3 linked regions of the Homo sapiens genome follow. The protein of the gene in region 2 interacts with the protein of the main gene of each other region in a biochemical or structural test. Each region holds a gene or a part of one and is shown on either strand. Other genes may lie near its edges.

Region 1 (7,025 bases), on a different chromosome or scaffold from region 2:
TGCAGTCTCACTCTGTTGCCCAGGCTGGAGTGCAGTGGCATGGTCTTGGCTCACTGCAAGCTCAGCCTCCCGGGTTCACGCCATTCTCCTGCCTCAGTCTCCTGAGTAGCTGGGACTACAGGTGTCCACCACCACGCCCAGCTAATTTTTTGTATTTTTAGTAGAGACGGGGTTTCGCCGTGTTAGCCAGGATGGTCTCGATCTCCTGACCTCATGATCCACCTGCCTCAGCCTCCCAAAGTGCTGGGATTACAGGTGTGAGCCACCGCGCCCAGCGACTCTGATACTTTGCATGTGTACTTCCTTCAGCTGAAAATGCCCTTCCCTCCCCATTCCTGCCTATCATACTTAAGGCTCAGTCTTAAATGTTTTTCAAGTGTGTTCACTGTATGGTTTTGAGTGCAAGGCTGTTCAGCCGTTTATTTGTAGGCTCATTTGGCAAGTATTACTGAACATCTACTATGTGCAAAAATTGTCATAAGCACCAGAGGAGCATCAGTGAACACAACTTTAAAAATCACTGCCATCCATAGGACTCAATTAGAAGCTTCCTCAACGAAGATATTCACATGGCCAACGAGCATATAAAAAGTTGTTCAACATCTTTAGTCATTAGAGAAATGCAAATCAAAGCTATAAACGAGATAGTATTTCACTCCCATTAGGAGTGCTGTTACAAAAATAGGAGAATATAATGTGTTTGCAATGAAGTAGAGAAATTGGAATCCTTTTGTATTGCATGTAAAATGGTACAACCATGTGGAAAACCCATTGGTATTTCCTCCAAAAGAGAAACATGGAATTATCATGTGATCCTGCTATTTCACTCCTACATATATCCCCAAAGGAACTGAAAGCATTGACTTAAACAGTTACATGTATAACAATGTTCATGGCAGCATTCAGTATTCATAAGAGCTGAAAATGGAAACAGCCTAAGTGTCCATCAATGGAGGAATAAAAAACAGGCTGGGCATGGTGGCTCACGCCTGGAATCCCAGCACTTTGGGAGGCCAAGGCAGGCAGATCACCTGAGGTCAGGAGCTCGAGACCAACCTGGCCAACATGGTGAAACCCCATCTCTACTAAAAATACAAAAATTAGCTGGGTGTGGTGGCACACACCTGTAAACCCAGCTACTCAGGAGGCTGAGGCAGGAGAATCCCTTGAACTTGGGAGACCAAGGTTGCAGTGAGCTGAGATCACGCCACCGCACTCCAGTCTGGGCAACAGAGCGATTCCATCTCAAAAAAAAAAAAAAAAAAGAAAGAAAAAGAAAAAAAAGGTGCTATATTCAAACAAAGGAATATATTCTAGTCTTAAAAAGCAATAAGTGAAATTCTAAAACATGCTGCAATGTGGCTGAACTTTGAAACAATATGCAAAATGAAAGAAGCCAGACATACAACAACCAATAGTGTATGATTCTGCTTACATGAGCTACCTAGAATAGGCAAATTCATTGAGACATAAAATAGAATGTTGGTTACCAGAGCTGGGTGACTGGGTGGGGAACGAGGAGTGCTTGTGCACCTGGTGCAATTTCTATTTGGGATGATGAAAAAGCTCTGGAAATAGGGGTGATGGTTGTGCAACATTGTGACTGTGCTTAATGCTACTGAATTGTACCCTATACAATGTTAAAAACTGCAAATTTTGTTAGACATATTGCCACAATAAAAAAAAAAAAGGAAACAAAAAAATGTACATGGGTAGGCTTGTTGGCTTGGCAAGCAACATTACTAGGGGACAGGTTCCCCGAAGCCTCAAATCCTACCACATGCAGCTGAAGGCACAGTACACCACTGCGATGCCGAGACTCACCTTCGGAGAGCACGCTTGTTATGTAGACGCCGCGGAGGGAGGTCACGTTGGTAAAGTCCGTCTCTCCGCCTGTGGTAGTGTAGAGATGTCGGTCCAAAGACTTGGAATAGACAATGCCTCGATCATCTGAGGTAAAGATTGTGCCAAACCCAGTGTCTGAAATAGGCAAACAAACAAAAATACTAAGTCTTGGGTGGAACCAAAGAGAAAAACAATAGTCTAACCACACACGATTACCTGCCTGACCAAACACAGTAGCCAATTGTGTCTCTTCATGATGAAGACTCAGACCTGAGAATTAATCAAGGTTTGATACTCAAGATCTTTATGCCCATCTTTAATTCTAGTACCCAGCTTAGTGCCTGGAATATGGCAGATGCTGAGTTTGTTGAATAAATTAATCAGATGCTACAGAAAAACTCTTCCCAGATATATTTTGGTGGGAGAGGCCCTATGTTTAGTTTACATATTTTTAAATCTTTACACTCTAGAACAATGCTTCTCAAACTATCTGTAGTGAAGGATCAATTTGTAAGATTTCCAATATGTCACAAACTGATGCTATTGTAAAACATAATAAAAACTAATCATTAGAAAATGAAAAGGTAAACAAAATATATGCCCCTAAGTTTTTTTTTTTTGAGATGGAGTCTCGCTCTGTTGCCCAGGCTGGAGTGCAGTGGCACGATCTCAGCTCACTGCAAGCTCCACCTCCCGGGTTCATGCCATTCTCCTGCCTCAGCCTCCTGAGTAGCTGGGACTATAGGTGCTCGCCACCACGGCCAGCTAATTTTTTGTATTTTTTGTAGTAGAGATGGGGTTTCACTGTGTTAGCCATGACGGTCTCGATCTCCTGACCTCGTGATCTGCCCGCCTCAGCCTCCCAAAGTGCCAGGATTACAGGTGTGAGCCACTGCGCCCAGCCATAAACCCCTAATTTTTTGTCATTAGATCCAACAGACATAAAATTGCTTTGTCAAAAGGCTAGAAGAGTTTCCAAACTCTTGCTCTCAATTTCTGTACTTATCTGGTAACAGATAGTTTGCAAATCAGTACCAGTCTGCTGACCATTCTTTGAGCAGCTCTGCTCTAGAACACCTGAACATACACACAAGCTACCAAAACAAGTGGCATTTTTAACAGGGGCTACAGATGATCTCTAGGACAGAAAAATCAGTAGGGCACTAATAAATTTCTAGGGGTAAGAGGAAAACTCGACATGTAAAAATAAAAGCTGCTCAAAGCTTACATCTCTATGCTTTTAAGGGTAAGCCACTAAAAAGCTCTTACCTCCAGGTTCATCTACATGCATGAATACCATGTCATCATTTGCTGCCAGAATAGAATAGAACTGTTCCTGTCCCACGGAGGGGAGCTGGGCCATGCTCCATGTGTCCCCTTGATCTGTTGAAACGTGGATCCTTCTTGTTGTATCCTAGAACAGATGTCAATATTTATCTTTCTAATTTTCTGCCAAGATGCCATGGGCAGGGACATGAACAAGAATGTTTTAAATAACTACTATTATCCATTTCTCTACTGGGTACGATTGCTATGAATGAAAGGTCATAGTACCAATTACCAAAGCAATTTCTAGCCCCTAGCAAAGTTCTAGGTAAAGGAACAATCCATTCTATTCTAAGTAAGGCTATCTTGGCTTTCTCTTTGAATTCTTCATTCTGATGCGGCCCTGTAAGATAGTATAGTCTTGGTCTCTGATAGTCCACCTCCTTCAGTAGAGCTAAGGATTTGATGAGAACATTAGGTTGGCTTTATAGCCATTTGCATACACTCAGGTAATTCTTAAAATGATGACTACTGCATAAAAGTTTGGTCCCTTTCATACAGTGCTTGCATAATTTAAAGAATTATATACTTAAGGGTCTAGAAAATAGAGATGAAACCCATGTTTGGGAGATCACAAGGGAAGTCAAGATGTAACACGCCTTCTCTCTAAGGAAGTCTCTCAGAATAGCCAGGATGAAGGGAACAGGCATGGGCTGGAAAGAGGCCAAGGAGAGTCGGAAATTACTATAAGGAAACTGATTAGGGAGTATTTGGCTGACGAAAAGAGTCTGTTAAGAAAGCAATTAAAACTTAACTCTCTGATAAATAGCTTAACATCGCTACTAGATACAGTTAGCCTGAGCATGAGAATTAATGTCGGTGTTTCCTTAGATTAAATACTCTTTAAAGTTCAGTGATAAGTACATTTAACTTATTCAACTTATACCAACATGTCTCATTACTTTGAATCTTATTCTCATTACTGTAGGTAGAAACCAGAGTTCAAAAGTACATCGCAAAATTTTAATTCTGTAGACAGCATTATACCATATATGCAGTATAGCATAGGAAGCTACCTCTGGAATTTGAGTCTGATTTCCAGCAGGATTCCACTACTGGTTGACCCTAGGTAAGTTACTCAATTTCCTCACCTATAAAACTGAGGTAATACTATTAGCTCACAGGGTTATTGGGAGGATATTACAAAATGGCTTTGGAGAGTTATCTGTATTTACTGCCTACTTCTTCATCTCTAGTTCTCACTGAAGTCACTCCAATCGGCCTTTTAACTTCCAATGAAGTGCTTTTGTCAAGGTCACCAACAACCTCCACGTCGCCAACTCCAGTGGATAATTCTCAGAATGCACCTAACTCAATGGTCCTGATTTCCCTCTTCCTCCCGGATCCCTCCCTCTCAGTCTTCTTTGCTGGATTCTTCTCTTTCCAACCTTTCAGTTGTGGGTGCTTCAGGGCTTGCTCAGTCCTCCCACCTCTTTGCTACCTACTTACTCCTCCAGAAGGTATCATCTGGTCACATGGCTTCAAATACCATAGCAATTAGGGAGATTCATATACCCAAATGCTCACTTGACATCTCCATTCAGATATCTAATAGGTGTCTCATATGCAGAACTGAATTCTTTTTTTATTTTTTTTGAGACAGAGTCTCACTCTGTTTCCCAGGCTGGAGTGCAGTGGCATGATCTTGGCTCACTGCAACCTCCGTCTCCACAGTCCAGTTGATTCTTGTGCATCAGCCTCCCGAGTAGCTGGGATTACAGGCCTGCGCCACCACGCTTGGCTAATTTTTTGTATCTTTTAGTAGAGACAGGGTTTCGCCATGTTGGCCAGGCTGCTCTCAAACTCCTGACCTCAAGTGATTTGCTCGTCTTAGCCTCCTAAAGGGCTGGGATTAAGGCGTGAGCCACCATGCTCGGCCCAAAACAGAATTCTTGATTTTTCTCCCACAACCTGCTCCTCCTGCAGTCTTTGCCATCCTAGAAAATGGCACCACCATTCAGGCGCTCAGGATACAGACTCTTAAAGGTACCCTTGATTCCACTCATTCTCTCACAACCCACATCAAATCCATCAGCAAGTCCTATTAGTAATATGTTTAAAAATGTATCCACAGTCTCACCACCTGCCCCCTTACCCACTGCCAAGAGCCTGGCCAAGCTACCACCTCCCCAGCTTGGACTCCTGAGAGAGCTCCCGGCGCTCCCGCTGCTTCTGCGCGTGCCCCTGTCAGGCTGTTCTGCGCACACCTATTCTTCAAAAGAGAAGCCAAATCTCAGCATTCCCCTGCTCACAACCCTCTCACAGCTCCCAACACAAGAAGAGTAAGGCCCACATCCTAATTGTGATCTACAAAGGCCACATAAGGTCTGGCCAGGCCCCCTCTGGCCCCACTTTGGACTATTATTCTCTGTGCTCCCCCCATACTGCCCTTCTCCCCTTTGCTTGGATTGATCGGGCATGCTCCAGTCTGAGGGTCTCTGCACTGGCTGTGCCTCATCCTACTCTCCTCCCAGATGGCCACATGGTCAAGTTCTTGTTTCACTTAGGTCTCAGAGAGCCCATCCTAAACAGTCTGTCTAAAAGAGCACTGACTCCTGACACTTTGTTTTCTTACTGTTTTAGATTTCTTCGCGGCTTTAATTATTACCTGATACACACACACTCACATTTATATTTATTTATGAGACAGGGTCTTGTGCTGTTACCCAGGCTGGAATGCAGTGGCATGATCACAGCTCACTGCAGCCTCAACCTCCCCAGGCTCAGATGATCCTCCCACCTCAGCCTCCCAAGTAGCTGAGACTACAGGCACATGCCACCATGCCTGGCTAATTTTCTTATTTTTTGTAGAGACAGGGTTTTGTCATGTTGCCCAGGCTGGTCTTGAATTCCTGGGCTCAAGGGATCCACCCGCCTCAGCCTCCCAAAGTCCTGAGATTACAAGTGTGAGCCACTACCCCCAGCCTTCATATTTATTTTTTGAGTATTTATTTTCCCCCTTAAACATAAGTTCTGAGAGCAGGAAATTCATCTGTTTTGTTCACTGCCATATTCCTGGGACTTAGAATAGTACCTAGCATATAGTAGGCACTCAATTAATGTTATCTAATTGTATTTTTATTCTTGGATAATGAGCAAGAGATTGCTTTCTACAGATGTCCATTGTCTGAGTAATGCCCAAACACTGGATCAAAATATCCTGGCCGGGCGCGGTGGCTCACGCCTATAATCCCAGCACTTTGGGAGGCTGAGGCGGGGGGATCACCTGAGCTCAGGAGTTCAAGACCAGCCCGGCCAACATGGCAAAACCCCATCTCTACTAAAAATACAAAAATTATCCGGGTGTGGTGGTGCACACCTATAGTCCCACTTACTTGGGAGGTTGAGGCAGGTGAATTGCTTTAATCTGGGAGGCGGAGGGTGCAGTGAGCCGAGATTGCGTCACTGCACTCCAGCCTAGGCAACAGAGAGAGACTTTGTTTCAAAAAAAAAAAAAATCCCAAAAAAGATAACAGAATTCACATGGTGACAGAAGGCCAAAGTGCAGAGTAGCCTATCAGTCAATCAGCCTTTGCAAAAAGAATCACCCCTAACACTCACAGTGGTACTAAATATAACAAAAAGACAAGAAACTCTGTCAATGCCAAGTAATAAAGAGAATCTATACGAGAGATATTTGCAGAAATATCAGACCCCAAAGGGGAGAGGGCAATACCTACCTTATCAGCCATCACAGAGGCAAAAAGGAAACGTCCCCCAAGACCAAATGAGTAGATTTTCACACCAATAGTTTTGAAGCTTTTTCCCAAGTCTGAAGTTCTCCATAATTCCAGAGCCCCAAGGTCAGCTTCTTAAACAAGACAAAATATTAATTAAAATTTCACTTACTGGTG
Region 2 (7,767 bases):
AGAATCCAAGTCCTGAAACAAGAATGGGGACACACACAGAGGGGCTCCAGATCCACTCCCTGCTCACTATCCTCCCAGACGCCCTCCTGAGGCCCTCCAGTACCAAAGAGGGCAAGAGGCCACCCCAGTCCCCTCCCATCACAGACCTTTCTGGCAGCCTAGAAAGGCTAACCCAACTCTGCCCTATGAAACTGCTTCCCTGAGCATCATTTTCAGAGGAGCAACACCTCTGTGTGGCTATAAAGAGCCTACGTGATTGTGACCATCCCTGCCTCCCACTGGCTTTCTACAGACAGACACATCCTTGGAGCAGCACACTGGATGCAGCTCACCCATTCCCAGAGACCCAGGCTGGGTACCAGGGGCCCCTTCTTCCAACCCTTGGCCCACCCCTGGCAATCTCTAGGTCAGGCTTCTGAGCACCAAGACTGGCTGCTCAGCTCCCACCTTCACCAGCACCCTACTACCCACATCCACCCCCTACACACATACACATACAGCCCCAGCAATGCACTTCCAAGTCTGAGTTTCCCTAACAGTCTCACTCTGAACCCTTCTCCCTGCATCCTTGGGAATGCTGGAAGCCTGTGGCCTGCAGTGGGGGAGAGGCACAGTTGGGTCTGTCCTGTTCCTCCTGCCCTCCCTGCTGACCCCCGCCCCTTGGCTGTTTATCTTGTCATCTCTGGCCGGGTTGAAGAGGGTAAGGGGGTGAACAGCAGAGCTGAGATATGGGTCAAGCTTGTCTCCTGGGCCAGGAGTCAGAGACATCTCCTGGGCTATCCATTTCCCTCAAACTGTCAGCTGCGAGAGCGCAAGCAGAAGCTCCATTAAGCCGAGAGGGCTGGTGGGCTTTCCAAAGAGCAGGACTGCAATTCCTCCAGGCTTTGCAGCCCCATGGCCCTGGGCTGAAGCAAGGGGAGGTGCTCCCAGAGCAGCACCAAAGGCAGGTCCGGCCCCCTTAAGTCCGTCGAAGGGGTAAAGAGCCACCCAAAATGCCTTCCTCCAGACCTTGGCCAGGACCTCAGCACAAACCCTTCTCAGCTGCCTACCCATTGCTGAGGGTCCCCAAGGGCTGGAAGCCTTGGGGGAAAAGAGGTGAGAATTATCCTCTGAGCAATTCCAGTATGGTCCACACCCTTCTCCAGGGTGGTAGGTTAGGAAGGGGTCACCTGGCCGAGGTCAACGAAAGAAAAGAGGAGCAGACTCTCCAGTCCCCAGCCCTCGATCTGTCCTCTCCTTTGCGTCTGCTGCCATCCCCACCAAAGAAAAATAGCAAGGAGAAAAGAGCAGGCCACCACTGGTCTCCCTCGGAGGGGGCAGAACCAAGCAAAAGCCAGCCAGAGTTGAATGTTCCAAATGAACCGATCCGCACGATCACACAAGAAACCCCTCTCCTCAAAACACACGCCCTCTCCTCTCCCTGCGCCATCCTGACTCGGAATAGTTCCGAGCAGTTATCAAAGCCCAAACTGGGAAGGGATCTGTAGGCGCCCAGATGCAGATGAGGGTGGCAAAGGGGTGTCTCGGAAATGCCCAAAATGGGGCTGGAGAGGGCGGGCTGCAGGAGGGGAAGGGAAGAGGTAGGCGTCCATGACGGCCTCCACACGTCCAAAGTCTCCCCGCGAGCAGCCAGCTCGCAACTTGTTTACTTGTCAGCATGTTTTGCTGTTTCCAAATGGAAATAGTTAAACACCTCGGCTGGATCGCGAGCAGTCCCTATCTGTCACCTTCCCTGCCGGCTAAGCGCTGCCGCCGCTGCCACCGCCGCTGCCGCCTCTGCCAAAGAATCGAACCTCGTCTACTTTATTCCACTTGAGCGTGGCCAAACTGTTGCTATTTAGTGGGGAGCAAAAAAAAACAATTTGCACCATCGAAACGAGCCAGCAACTGGTTGGGAGGCGGGCGGTAGCTGGGCCCCGCGTGCCCTCGGCGGCCGGGGTCCTCTCCGGGGAGAGGCACACACACGCATAGCCGGATCGCGCCTCGCCAGGGCCGGAGTCACCTGGAATGCGCAGCCGGAGAGCATCTCCCGAGCCAGAGCGAGCCTGACGCGCGCCCAGCGGGCGGCGGGCAGCGGCGAGCTGGGGCGGGCGGAGGGCCGGCTCCCGGCCGCGGGTGGGCAGGAGGGAGACGCAGAGCGCGGGGGAGGCAGGCTGGGGAGCGGCCGCCTGACTTACATGGAAGTGATATTCCTTGAGATGTCCGTGATGTTGATACTGGCGTTCCCATTGCTGTTCCCTGAATCCTGCCCTTCCAGGAGGGGGAAGAGGTTCCCATCGTCCGGCCGCCGGCAATTGATCTCAGTCTTGCTGCAGACACAATTTGCAGGGCAAGCCAGCACGGAGCCCACATAGTCCAGCCAGACGCTTCCCAGCAAGAAAATCCGCCAGAAACTACACTTGGCTGGGCAAAGAGAGACATCCATCTCCGATCGCTGCTTCTAAAAAAGAGGAGGAGGAGAGGAGAGGGGGGTGGGGTGGGGGGAGTGGGGAGAGCAGGGGGGGAAGGAAACAAAGACGGCGAGGGAGGGGGGAAGGGGGAGGGGGGGCCTCTGCCTTTGAAACGCCGAGCGATCAGATGCAAAATCCTTCAGCGTCTGAAACCATCGCGGACGCCGCCGCCGCCGCCGCCGCCGCCGGGTGGGAGCCGCGAGGAGCGCCTAGTGGCGCGGTCTGCCGGGCATGGTGGCCGGCTCGGCGATCGCTGACTCGCCGGGTCCGGGGGCTCTGGAAGCGAGGCGCGCTCTCCGACTCCGAGACTTTGCAGGGTTGCAACAGACGGTGGGGAGGCAAAAAAAAAAAAGGAAAAGGAAAAAATGGTGCTAAAGTCACCAAGTCCCACCTACTGGGCAGAATTAAAACGGACACACCACGCACCTGCAAAACACACACACTCACTCTCACACATACACACACCCGGAGCCCGAGGAAAGGAAGAGAAGGAAGATGCAGTAGGAGCTGCAGCAGCCGCCGCGAATGGCTCGCCGCGCGGCTGCAGAAATGTACAAGTGCTCCGAGCCTTACGAAACGCACGGGTTATCGGAGCGTCTTCCTCGGCTCCCTCCCTCCCTTCCTCCCTCCCTCCTCCCCTCCCTCGTCGCGGCCTCCTCCCCCCGCCCCCCGCCCGGGCTGGGAGCGGCAGGAGAGCGGAATCTCCCCCTCCCTCCCCTCCCCACACCCGTCTCTCTCCCCGCCTGTCCTCTCCCTCCTCCCCACCCACCCACCCACCCACTCGCCGGCTCGCGGCTGTAGCCGGCACCGCCACCCGCAGCCTCGCGGCAGCCCGCCCGCTCCACGCCTCGCAGCGCGGCGCCCGCTAGCCGCAGCCCGGGGGAAACCGAGACCGAAGGGAAAAAGTTGCATTTGAGATTGCGAGGGTCGGGGCTGGGGAGGGAGAGTTGGCGAGCTGGCTGCACGACACGGAAAGGCGCTCTCCTTTCCACTTTTTGGCCCTCGCGCTACCCGGTTTTGCTGCAATCCGGACCGCGGTAGGAAGTGAAATGAACGTGGCGGAGGTGATTGGGGAGTGCTCCCAAGCCTTGGGTGGGGGGCGCTCCCAAGCCTGGGTGGGTGGGGGGCGCAGGCTCACGGACGGCGACGGGGGGTGCCGGAGCGCACAGACACCCCAGAGAAGCACCCAGAGCCGGGGACCGGGACCGCAGACGCGCAGTCCTTGGTCTGAATGACACTCATTTCCGTAATCTAGAGTCTGGGGCTCTGGTCTTGGCTGGGAGGGGACTGCGGGACATGGCACGCTAGGTGCCCCCCGTGCCCGCTGCGCTTTCTTGGAGGTGGGTTTTGCATTCGGCCTTGAGCAGGCATGGATCGGGGAAGGAAGAAACAGGGGTCGAAAGGGCTGCGCTGGAGAGCCGAGGTGGCCCCGGGCGAGCTGTGCGTGCAAGAGAAATGGCCGGGGGAAATTGAGATGCAAGGGGCATATTTTGGCAAGCGCCACGCCAGCACCGTCAGAGGCCGGCTTCTCGGGCTCAGCTCTCGGGTGAGCTGAGCTGGCTGCCGGGTGAGGGGGCGGGCGGGCTGCTTTCTCCGGATTCGGGGGCGCAGAACCTCCTCCTTCCCTCCCACACAAGCACCCCTTCCTGGTAGGGACGCAAAGCAGGTGCAGCTTTCGACGAGAGCTCAGATCTCATCCGGGAAAGAAGTGTGTGTGGGGGGGGCCCCGCTTTTGCGCTGGTAGGGATTTTTTTCTTAATAAAACATAAAGATGCCAAGTGTGAGCTGTTTGCTGAAAAAAAAAAAAACGAGCATTCGCTGTGGGAAAGGAGAAGAAAGGGTTAGGGGAGTCCGAGCAGGCAGACACACTACAGCATTCACACGCAGAAGAAAGCAGGGTTCTCCTTCCCGAGCTTGGAGGAGGGCAGGCGAGGAAGCAAAATACATTGAATTCAATTCAACTGCATCCAGTATCTGAAAGGAGTCTCCCCCGCCCCCCTGTGGATTCCGATGCAGGTCATGCAACTTGCAGGCAAGATGGGGGAAGGGGTATGCCGGTGTCACCGCCTGCCCCAGGCGCAACCACAAACAGGCCGGTCGCCTTCGGGTGGCACTGTCGCTTGGAGTAAAAACTTGGACGAAAAAAATGGAAGAAAAGAACATGCCTATACAAGGCAGTTTTCCCGACTTCCCGTCACGTTCCACCTTCCCTTGGCCCCAGGGAGATTTTTACCCCCGTCGCCATTATGGCCTTGTCTCCAGACTGGCATTTTGCCCTCCCACCAGCAGGCGGGGACAGAGTGTGAAGACCTCCTTGGACTCTCAAACCACTTGCTACTGGCCCTAGGCCAATCCTGGCTGTCCTTAGGCCACTGGGAATTTCCCTGTCACTTCAAGTGCCATTCTGGGATTGGCTTTAGAATATCTGAGAGTCAGGAAACTGAGGTGTAGTCAGATCCTAACACTTGGCCTCTCTTGGGAGGTGGCAGGTGGCAGCAGAGAAACACAGCCTCTCTCAGACCACTCCTGGGCAGGGAACGCCAAGTGGATTCAGCCCAGCATCAGTGCTCCAGCCTGGAACTGAAATGGTTGTGTCCAAAAGATGCCCAGCCCACTTTTTTGAGAGAGAGAGAGAGAGAGAAAGAAAGAGAGAGAGAGAGGATTTTTAACATGTCAAGCAGAGAAGAAGAGACATCCATAAGTTAGAACAACAAAAACAACAACAACAAAAAACCTTTAAAAACCCCTCTGGATTTGGTAAAAATGCAGATTGTGGAGCAAGGGGCCCTGATGGGCAAGAAGTCTTTCATCCTGACAGTAAAATGGGATTAAGATGGGGTGCTACGTTTATGCTCACACTCTGGGCCTGAGCAGGAAGCGACAGCTGAAAAAGAGGGAAGCCCTTTCAAAAGCAGGTGACGCATGGACACATAGAGGGGACAATGCACATGAGGGTCTACCAGAGGGTAGAAGGTGGGAGGAGGGAGAGGATCAGGAAAAATAACTCATGGATACCAGGCTTAATACCTGGGTGATGAAATAATCTGTACGACAAACCCCATGACACATGTCTACCTGTATAACAAAGCTGCACATCCTACACACGTACCCCTGAACTTAAAGGTTTAAAAAAAAAAAGCAGGTGATAGACTAGAGTGGGGAAGAGCAGAATTTCATTTCTAACCACAGGGAAATGACAAGCTTTCTGGGACTCCGCTTTCCCATCTGTAAAATGACCACGTTAAGACCAGATCCTCAAAACCCAAAGTGTGGCCCTCTGTCCAGTAGCATCCATATCACCTGGAAGCTTGCAAGAAGTGCAGCATCTGAGGCCCCATCACAGACCTCCCAAACCAGAATGTCCATCAGAACAAGCTCCCAGGTGATTCATAAGCACATCGCAGCCCCATAGTCATCCCTCCCAGCTTGAAGATTCTCTGATTCTACATGGATCTGGGCCAAAGGGACTGTTGAGGGAGAAAAAAAAAAAAAAGGTGGGGAATGATGGGGATGGGTCCTCATAATGTTATTCAGTTACAGTGAAGTTAGGGTGAAATAAACTGGGTATCTCAGAGGCAGGGGCCTTGTCAGAAAAAGACATTTGAAGTTTCATTCTAAGCTTAAGAAGATGAGAATGACCTGCTCATGCACTGCTCACAGAAATCATAGTGCAGGGTCAATAATAGTGCACACTCAGAGTTTGCTAGTTCTTAACCTCTGCAGTAGGCCAAATTTAAATGTGGGAGCAGAAGAAAGTCTCCAGCGTAGACACCCTCCCCTCAGTAAGAGTCCAGAGCATTTACAGTGTCTCACCTCTTGATAAGAATGTCCTGGTTGAAAAGGAAAAATGCCTGTCGCTTCATGGAGTCCTGGAGATATCATGACCAAGCTCAGCATCCAGCCAACCAGGGGTCACCCCCCAACCTCCTCATCTCCTTTGCTACCAGCTGGAGTCTTAGAAAGGAGGAAACTCACCCGTGTGCCCCTTGCTGATCAATAAGAGGCAGGAATAGGCAAAGTTTTTTGTTTTGTTTTGTTTTTTGAACAGAAAGTAAAGCTTTAGAAACCCTTTACAGGCGAGCAGACACCTTCCAGTACCAAGGGTTTGGAGAAGACAGAAATGTTCCCAAGATTCGAATGCAATCTTTCACCAGACAGGTCAGAGTGGGGACCACTTGCTGGAGCACAGTGGCCCAACTCCCCTGACACCTAGAGAAATTGAACACGTGTCTTTCTTAAAAGGCATGTTCCAGGCGTGCAAGCACCTGAGATTAATATCAACTGTTTATGGGAGATTTCCAGCAGCCCACATTCCCCTCCACCTAGCAAGGGAGAAAGGGAGTGGAAACTCAGAGCAGAGCCCTGCCAGTCTATTGGTCACCTGTCTGCCTTTCTAACCCAGCCACATCCCTTTTTCCAAAGGACCCATACTCCTGAGTCAGTGGCCACATTACCGGGATGTAGGCCACACACCAGGCAGGTCCATGGATTCACCCACCATGCCCTGCTCCTATGGTGTCATTCTGAATCCAAGAGCTGTGCTTCACAACTTTCAAGTTTGAGCAGAAATAGGATCTACTTCTGCAAGTCTCAGCTGGTCAAGAAACTGTGATACTGGGAGGTGACTGGGGAGCACAGCGGGCTACAAAGGGAATACTAGGTCCTGAAGGACTTGCTGTTCTAAAAGAGCTATCTGGAGCTGGCAGATCTGGGCTTGGGCTAGAGGAGGAGTTCTGTTTCTTGGGTGGCCCAAGCATAAGTTACAAGGGAAAGAGACAGGTCTGGGCCTGGTTGGAGGCTGGGGATGTATAATGCTATCCAGAAGCTCTGGGTCCAAGGAAAGAATTTTGACCATACATGGAAGATGAAAGCCCACCCACAAAAGGGGACAGTCAAGCACCAAAGTGGTCCAGGAAAGCAGAAGAATTCAACCATGGAAGAGCCAGCTCAGGGCTCCCACTCAAGTCCCAATATCTTGGACAAACACCTGCCAGGAGGTTGGGACTACCTGCTGGTGGTGTCCTGCTTGAACACCTTCAGTGGCAGGAAGCTCATTACCAGCCACTCCAGAGCCTTCGACTCTGTTCTCAGACAGCTCCATTCCTTGGGTATCCTTGACTTTGACATAGCGAAGCCAGCACCCTAAAGCTGCCACCCTCGTGCTAGTGCTGCCACCTAGACCCTCAGGGAAAAGTCTCACCTCTTTTCTGCAAGCCACCCAGGAGGCTACTCACTGCCCCTCTCTTCTCTGAGCAAAGCCTCAGTTCCTTCCCTATACTCCAAAAGCACAGCTTTCTGATCTTTCCCCACTACAGCT
Region 3 (7,025 bases), on a different chromosome or scaffold from region 2:
TTTATGAAGAATACAAAACTGACTCTGAGCTACTGGTTTTTTAAAAATATAGCCTCATGCACTGAATCTCCCATTGGGAAAATCATGATTGCATTGTTCAGAACTCAGTGAGTCTTAAATTAAGTACAATTTAAATAGCCGTGGTATCTTAATTACTTAGATGAGAATACACAAATTAGACAATTGAAATCTTTCAAGAGCATCCACATTGCTGGTAGAAGCATCAGTCATGTATCAAGAGAGCCTGGAAAGTCCTCAGAAAGGATTTACTCACGTTCGTTACATTGTTTATGAAGTCAATTTCTGTACATCGAAGAAATTTTTTGTTGTATTCCTTCTGTGTTCACATTATAAAGCATTATGGACTGTCAGGAAATTAGTGTTACATAAAGGATTTAATGGATAATTAACTTTATATTTCAGAGGTCTTCGCACTAACAACAGTGTAATTCGCAGTTTAGAGGAGTCTAGCATGTTACATATTTTCTCTGTTTCCTAAAAAAGTATCATTTGATGGCAACAATTATCAACTCTGGTGTCACATTAAAAGCACTTGAGGGAACTCTAAAGCAAACCTACACTCAACTCCAGGCAGGCCAATTCAGTGAGGAACGCCCAGGCGGAAGGATCAAGTTCTGCAGGTCACTCCTATATGCAGTCGTGGTTGACAGTGATTGTTTTTTAATAAAGGGATAGGTAATATAGATAATTATTCAAAATATCAGAAAACAACGGAATGTGTTGAGTGGACTTCACAGTGCTAAATAATTGTCCAGTTTTAAATGTCTAGAATAGTATATTTCATACTTATACATAAAATTGGTAGCTTCTAGGTAAATTCAGTATCATGACTTGGTACTAGGTGTACTTTGGTTTAGGAGACTTATATAGCTAAAACTTAAGGATTCCAAATATGTGGTGAAGTCTATGAAAGCAAGAGTAAAATGACATGGATGCTTTCTACAGAACTACCCTACGGTCTTTAAAACACTCTGGAAAATGTATTCCTATTTGCTAGTAAGTTTAAACAAAAAGGAATATTTTTCAAAGCAAGGAGACATATGTGAAAAGTATAATTTTACTCTTATTTTTGCATAGCATGTGAGAAAATTTACTAGAATTATGTAAACAAAAATAAATATAAAATTTACTGGTTGCCATGGTGTTAAAGTTATAGTTTTTATAGTTTTGGGGAAAAAATACTAACTTTCCAATTTTAGACAAATATTGCATCTATTTTTCCAAGTAAAGACCAATGTAGACATAAAATGGTTTATAGAATTAAAAACTTTCCTTGTATTCTACAAAAGCATTTTATGAACATCTTCTTCTGGTGCAGAGGTGGGGAGTGCATTCTGCTATCCACTCAGCAAAGATAGCAATTCCATGTGTATGGGTAGTAATGTGCCATTTGGAAATACATACATATTCAATATATAGCACATTATATATGTATATATGTGTGTACACACATATACATACACACATAAACATGCCAAAGGGTAGTGAGTAATCAGAAAAAAGCAATTCCATATTTACAATGGAAAAATCGTTAGGAAAAAATTACTACACACGTTTCTACATGTGTATTAGTCCATTCTCACGCTGCTGTAAGAACATACCAGAGACTGGGTAATTTATAAAGGAAAGAGGTTTAATTGACTCACAGTTCTGCATGGCTAGGGAGGCCTCAGGGAACTTACAATCATGGTGGAAGGCACCTCTTCACAGGGCGGCAGGAGACAGAATGAGTACCCAGTGAAGGGGGAAGCCCCTTATAAAATCATCAGATTTTGTGAGAACTCACTATCTCGAGAACAGCATGGGAGAAACCACTCCCATGATTCAGTTACCTCCCACCGGGTCCCTCCCATGACACGTGGGGATTATGGGAGCTACAATTCAAATGAGATTTCGGTGGGGACACAGCCAAACCACATCAACGTGTAATACATTTTATGTATAAATGTACACATTTGAATAAGAGAGTGGCATATAGGCAACTTAAAAAATTAATAGTTTTTTAATAAAGGAACATAATTTAAATACATCTATTTTGATTTAAGCCCCCTTTAAAGCAGCAAGCAACAAAAATAAGAAACAAACAAAATAATCCAGTCTCTTGAGTTAAGATCGTGCTGTGGTTGAGTACTGTCAATGCCTGGGCATTTAGCTAACACTGTCATACTATGTGAGGCATGACTATGTCAACACATACTGCCTTTTGATTTGTCAGATCCCCATTAATCTGTACAGTTTTTGTATTTAGGTTTTCTTTAAATGAACTCACCTTTCACTAAGTTGATTTAAACATAATCTTTTATAAAGCCAGGTTAAATAAAATATCATCTTCCATAAATAAAGGTAATGCTAAACTAAAGATATTTAACTATTTAAATAACTTGTAAAATTCTACCCAGACACTGTCATGTAAATTTTGAAAGGTGCTCTATTTTTTTTTTTTTTTGAAAGGAGAGGTTAGTGAATTTGTGTTTGGCATCAATGAAAATGAAATTGTGTCAATTCAGTGTGGCCTGGACAAGTATCTGCATAGTACTTCCTTATTGTGACATAAATTATTTCACTAAGTAGCATTTTTGTCTGCAATCTAAATAACTTAGCATTGAGTACAGTGAATGATTGTATCAGCTTTAAACCAAGATACCAAAGAAAGCATCTTGACTTTGAAGGGTACACATGACTGTGTTGAACTTGTCTATATATACTCCAAAGTGGTGGCTGTTCTATAACAGCTATTACACTGAACTTGAAGTTATAAACCTAGGTTTGTAGACACAAACACACAAACCCAAGCTGTGTCTCAATAACTCCAGCTGATTTGCCTTACTTCTTTTGGATTCTAGTTTATGTACAGAATGGGGGTTAAAAATTGAATATATGTTTGAAATCCTACCATAAGACTTATATAATATGTGTGATAAGTCTTTACAAGTTGTGAGATGCACAATATGTACAAAATGTAGTGAGATTATGTTACCATTATGAAGTCTCAAACTAAGCATTAATATGTCTTTGTTCCCAGTAATTTTACTGTTAAGCCAAAAATAAAAATTAACCAAGAATTATTGCAAATAATTCAGGAAAATGGCAGACAAAATATTTTGCACATGTTGAAAGGTTACAACCATCACTAATCATTGCAAGTACCATGTAAACAATAGTTTTCTTTATTAATTTCTGCTCTTGCTTATAGCAAAATATCATTACTTATTCTATCCACTTTGACTGACAGGTGCAATATTCTCATTGAGTAATAGTGTAACAATATAAAAATGAATTACTTAGAGGATAATACTGCTCTGTATCTTAAAATAAATCTAAAGAGGATTTATGCAGAAAGTTAATGAAAATGTTCCCTATCTAGAATTTGTGGACTCTGTGGACAAAGTTACAAGACCTTGAAGAAAAACAGAAAATACTGTGACTAAAGTGAGGCACAAGTAATAAAACCGAGGCTAAAGAAATCATAGTATGCTCCCTTTTAATTATTTTATCTTATTTAATAGAAATTATGTCTTCCTCAAAACCAGCACTGCATTTCAAAATATGTGAATCTAGAGATTATCTTTAAATGGTGGGACTACAGATAATTTCAATTTTGTTTGTATTGCATACCTTTTATCTTCTACAGTTTCTAAAATTGATGTAAATAGAAACAGTCCAAAGATACAAATACTTAATTGTCCTACTCAACAGTTTCTACATGGTTTATGATCCAAAGAGGGCAATGCTAACTAATAAAAATACTTTGAAAAGATGACATTTATGTCAAATATATATGCTTCATAGTAAACTATTTTTTTTTAGATGGAGTTTCGCTCTTGTTGCCCAGACTGGAGTGCAGTGGCACGATCTCAGTGCACTGCAACCTCCACCTCTCGAGTTCAAGCGATTCTCCTGCCTCAGCCTCCTGAGTAGCTGGAATTACAGGCGCTGGCCTCTGCACCCCGCTAATTTTTGTATTTTTAGTAGAGACGAGGTTTCACAATGTTGGCCAGGCTGCTCTCAAACTCCTGACCTCAGGTGATCCGCCAGCCTCGGCCTCCCAAAATGTTGAGATTACAGGTGTGAGCCACCGCACCCAGCCTAAACTAATTTTTTATTCCGTATTCTATTTTATACTGATCCAAAATATTCACCATTACTGTGCGTGTTTGAAAGACATTTAAGGAAACTGGGAATGTAGATCGTAGAAAGATATTTGACCACTGTAGCACTTCCCTGCTCACTATCTATTAATTTCAGTCATTTGAAAGATCTCTTTAAGTACTGAGTATTATCTTTGTTTTCTAAGAAAAGGAATGCCATTTTTAAAGTTCACCTTGCCAGCAGTCATCTGTAAATCTATCAAGATAAAAACTGAGATGTGAATCTTGATAACTCTCTCTGATTTACCCACCTCTCCCAGGTCTTACATAGGCATAATAATTTAATAGCAAAATCCAGCCACAATGTCTGTATTTGGTTTTTACTGTAAAAATTACCTTAATTTTCATTGTCTTTGGCTTAATTTTTGAAATTCAAAGAACTTTGGACATGTTCATATGCAGACAGAGGGATGTTTTTAAAAGGAAAAAAATTGCCAATAGAGATAGAGTTTCTAAGCATACATCAGATGTCATACACACGAACATGCAGTTGAAGATAATGCAAAATATAGGGATTGGGTAGAAGATATATAAGATCTTTGCTTACTGGAAAATTCTAAGAACTAGCATTATTTGCAGGAATATGTATAGATACAGAAGTAAGTGGCAAATCTACACACAGCGTAAGGAATATGCATAATTGTCACCATGAATAAAAATCTAGAATCAAATAGAGTTCAAATAATTGAAATTGTCATCTGCTAAATTAGTATTTAATGAGAAATGATAAATATACAAATGATAAATAAACATAGATACCACAGATCCATTTCAGAAAACAATGTCCAGGATTCACAATATTCTAGACAAGTAAAGACTGAAACACACTCATTATAACTTCTGCACCATAAATCCATATATTGGAAATTCATATACAAAGTAATGATCCTGAAATTCCTTTAGAATTTTTAAATAGTCAGAATGACTAAGTTATTTATATGTTTTATCTTAAATATATTTATTGCATCTAATTCTTGGGAAATTGGTAATGCATGCCATGCAAGATATAATCTCTCTTTACAAACTAGTTTTTACAGACTTGGAGATGAAAGAAATTGTAAAATGGTCTAAAGGACAAAATATACAAATGCACATATGCACATTTCTATTTATTTTATTTTATTTTATTTTATTTTATTTTATTTAGTTAGTTATTTTGAGACAGAGTTTCGCTTTGTCACCCAGGCTAGAGTGCAGAGGCATGATCTCAGCTCACAGCAACTTCCACCTTCCGAGTTCAAGCAATTCTCGCACCTCAGCCTCCTGAGTAGCTGGGACTATAGGCACACATCACCAGACCCCGCTGACTTTCTGTAATTTTTAGTAGAGATGGGGTTTCACCATGTTGCCTCAGCCTCCCAAAATGCTAGGATTACAGGCGTGAGCCACCGTGTCCAGCTATTTCTATTTATTTTAATCATTGAGCTTCTATAAAAGGGTGAATTTTCATAAATATCTCTCATGAACAAATACTCCGAGGAAAGCTGTTGAGAGAGGAAAGGAAAACTCACAGTGTTTACAGAAAGGAGATCAATTATCCTTAAGCCAGGAATGGAGGTGTCTTAAGGTTTTAATCAAGAAGGGAGAAAGGGCAAGAGGTAGGTGAATCCACAATAAGATGTTAAAACAAAAATATGAAAAAGCAAAATTCTCAATAGGTGCTCAGCTCATAAAGTTAGTGCTCTTCAAAACTCGCAATCTGTCCCTCCACATTTCCCTGCTTCCCCTACAGCGAAGTTGGTGCAAAGTGACAATGACTGGCCCGATGTACTCTCAGTAGCAATGATGCAGGGGTTCTTTATTATAACTAATTCAGGCTTAACACAATATGACTCTGTAATACACACACAAACACCAGTGTACACTGCCTCTTAAACTGTGGGCACTCCAAGATAATTTGATTACTTGAGTGTGTACCTGAATACACACACACACACACACACACACACACCACCCTATCCTGAGACACTCCTTCAGAACCCACACATATCAACACCAATCTCTCACCTGAGTTTGAGTAAGAAATGTAAAATGTCTGTAGAAGACACTATTTTGTCTGCATACAATGTGTCTGTGAATAGTCATGTTGATGTATTTGAATGAATTCCTTGAAAAAAAATGATGTGAGGTCTGTGTCTAGAATAAGTCAAGGTATAGCAGTCTAAAATTTGTACAGTGATATTGATGACAATGACTGTGATGATGGTGATGATGATGATGATCACTCCACAAAGCTGCATCTATTTCTGATAAATTTAGGGTCAATACACAAAGTGTTAGATTATTAATGCTTTCAGTGATTGAGTTCTTAGTTTGGCTGCAAACCAAAAACTGACTGGATATTTTGCTATATATGCCTTGCTTACTAAATTTTACTTCTTTCCCAAGCAGTGGGTAAGGGACTGTACTCAACAGGTTGCTAGCTTCCCCAGTGAGACACAGGGCAAGGGCCTTTTTGACCTCTTAAACCTGGAAGCCCCTCTGAAAGGGCTGACTTGCTACCTAGAGGACAAGAAATGCCTTACTGCCCTCATTCAAAATTGCACTTATCTGTGAAGAGCAAAGGGCACATTAGAACATTTCATCATAAATTATGTTTCATGTCAATAATTATCTCTGATGCAATCGGCCTCATATCCAGGCCTTTTTTTCTCCATTAGAATATCACAGACTTTGATTTTTGAAAGCATGAGTACTGTCCATAATAAATCAAATATCTATGCATGTTCAATTATAATTATTTATATTTTGAAATTTAGTTTTGGACATAAATCACAAAAACTCATCGTGTCCTTGGAGTTAAAAAATATGTTATTTGGAAAAGTTCATAGTTTTGAGTCCATAAAATTAGGAATA

Evidence for each region.
Region 1: the proteins of NTRK3 (region 2) and SORT1 form a complex in vitro, tested with the Homo sapiens proteins (one study listed by BioGRID and IntAct).
Region 3: the proteins of NTRK3 (region 2) and DOK6 form a complex in vitro, tested with the Homo sapiens proteins (one study listed by BioGRID).

Annotation. Positions count from the first base shown.
Region 1 is NC_000001.11:109,338,900-109,345,924, forward strand, and holds part of SORT1 (sortilin isoform 1 preproprotein), read right to left. Parts: intron 6,983-7,025; coding exon 6,852-6,982; intron 3,260-6,851; coding exon 3,115-3,259; intron 1,981-3,114; coding exon 1,825-1,980; intron 1-1,824.
Region 2 is NC_000015.10:88,253,729-88,261,495, forward strand, and holds the start of NTRK3 (NT-3 growth factor receptor isoform a precursor), read right to left. Parts: upstream 3,012-7,767; 5' UTR 2,916-3,011; intron 2,759-2,915; 5' UTR 2,556-2,758; exon of another isoform or gene 2,441-2,555; 5' UTR 2,426-2,440; coding exon 2,178-2,425; intron 1-2,177. UniProt on the Homo sapiens protein: Receptor tyrosine kinase involved in nervous system and probably heart development.
Region 3 is NC_000018.10:69,403,882-69,410,906, reverse strand, and holds part of DOK6 (docking protein 6), read right to left. Parts: intron 1-7,025. UniProt on the Homo sapiens protein: DOK proteins are enzymatically inert adaptor or scaffolding proteins. They provide a docking platform for the assembly of multimolecular signaling complexes. DOK6 promotes Ret-mediated neurite growth. May have a role in brain development and/or maintenance.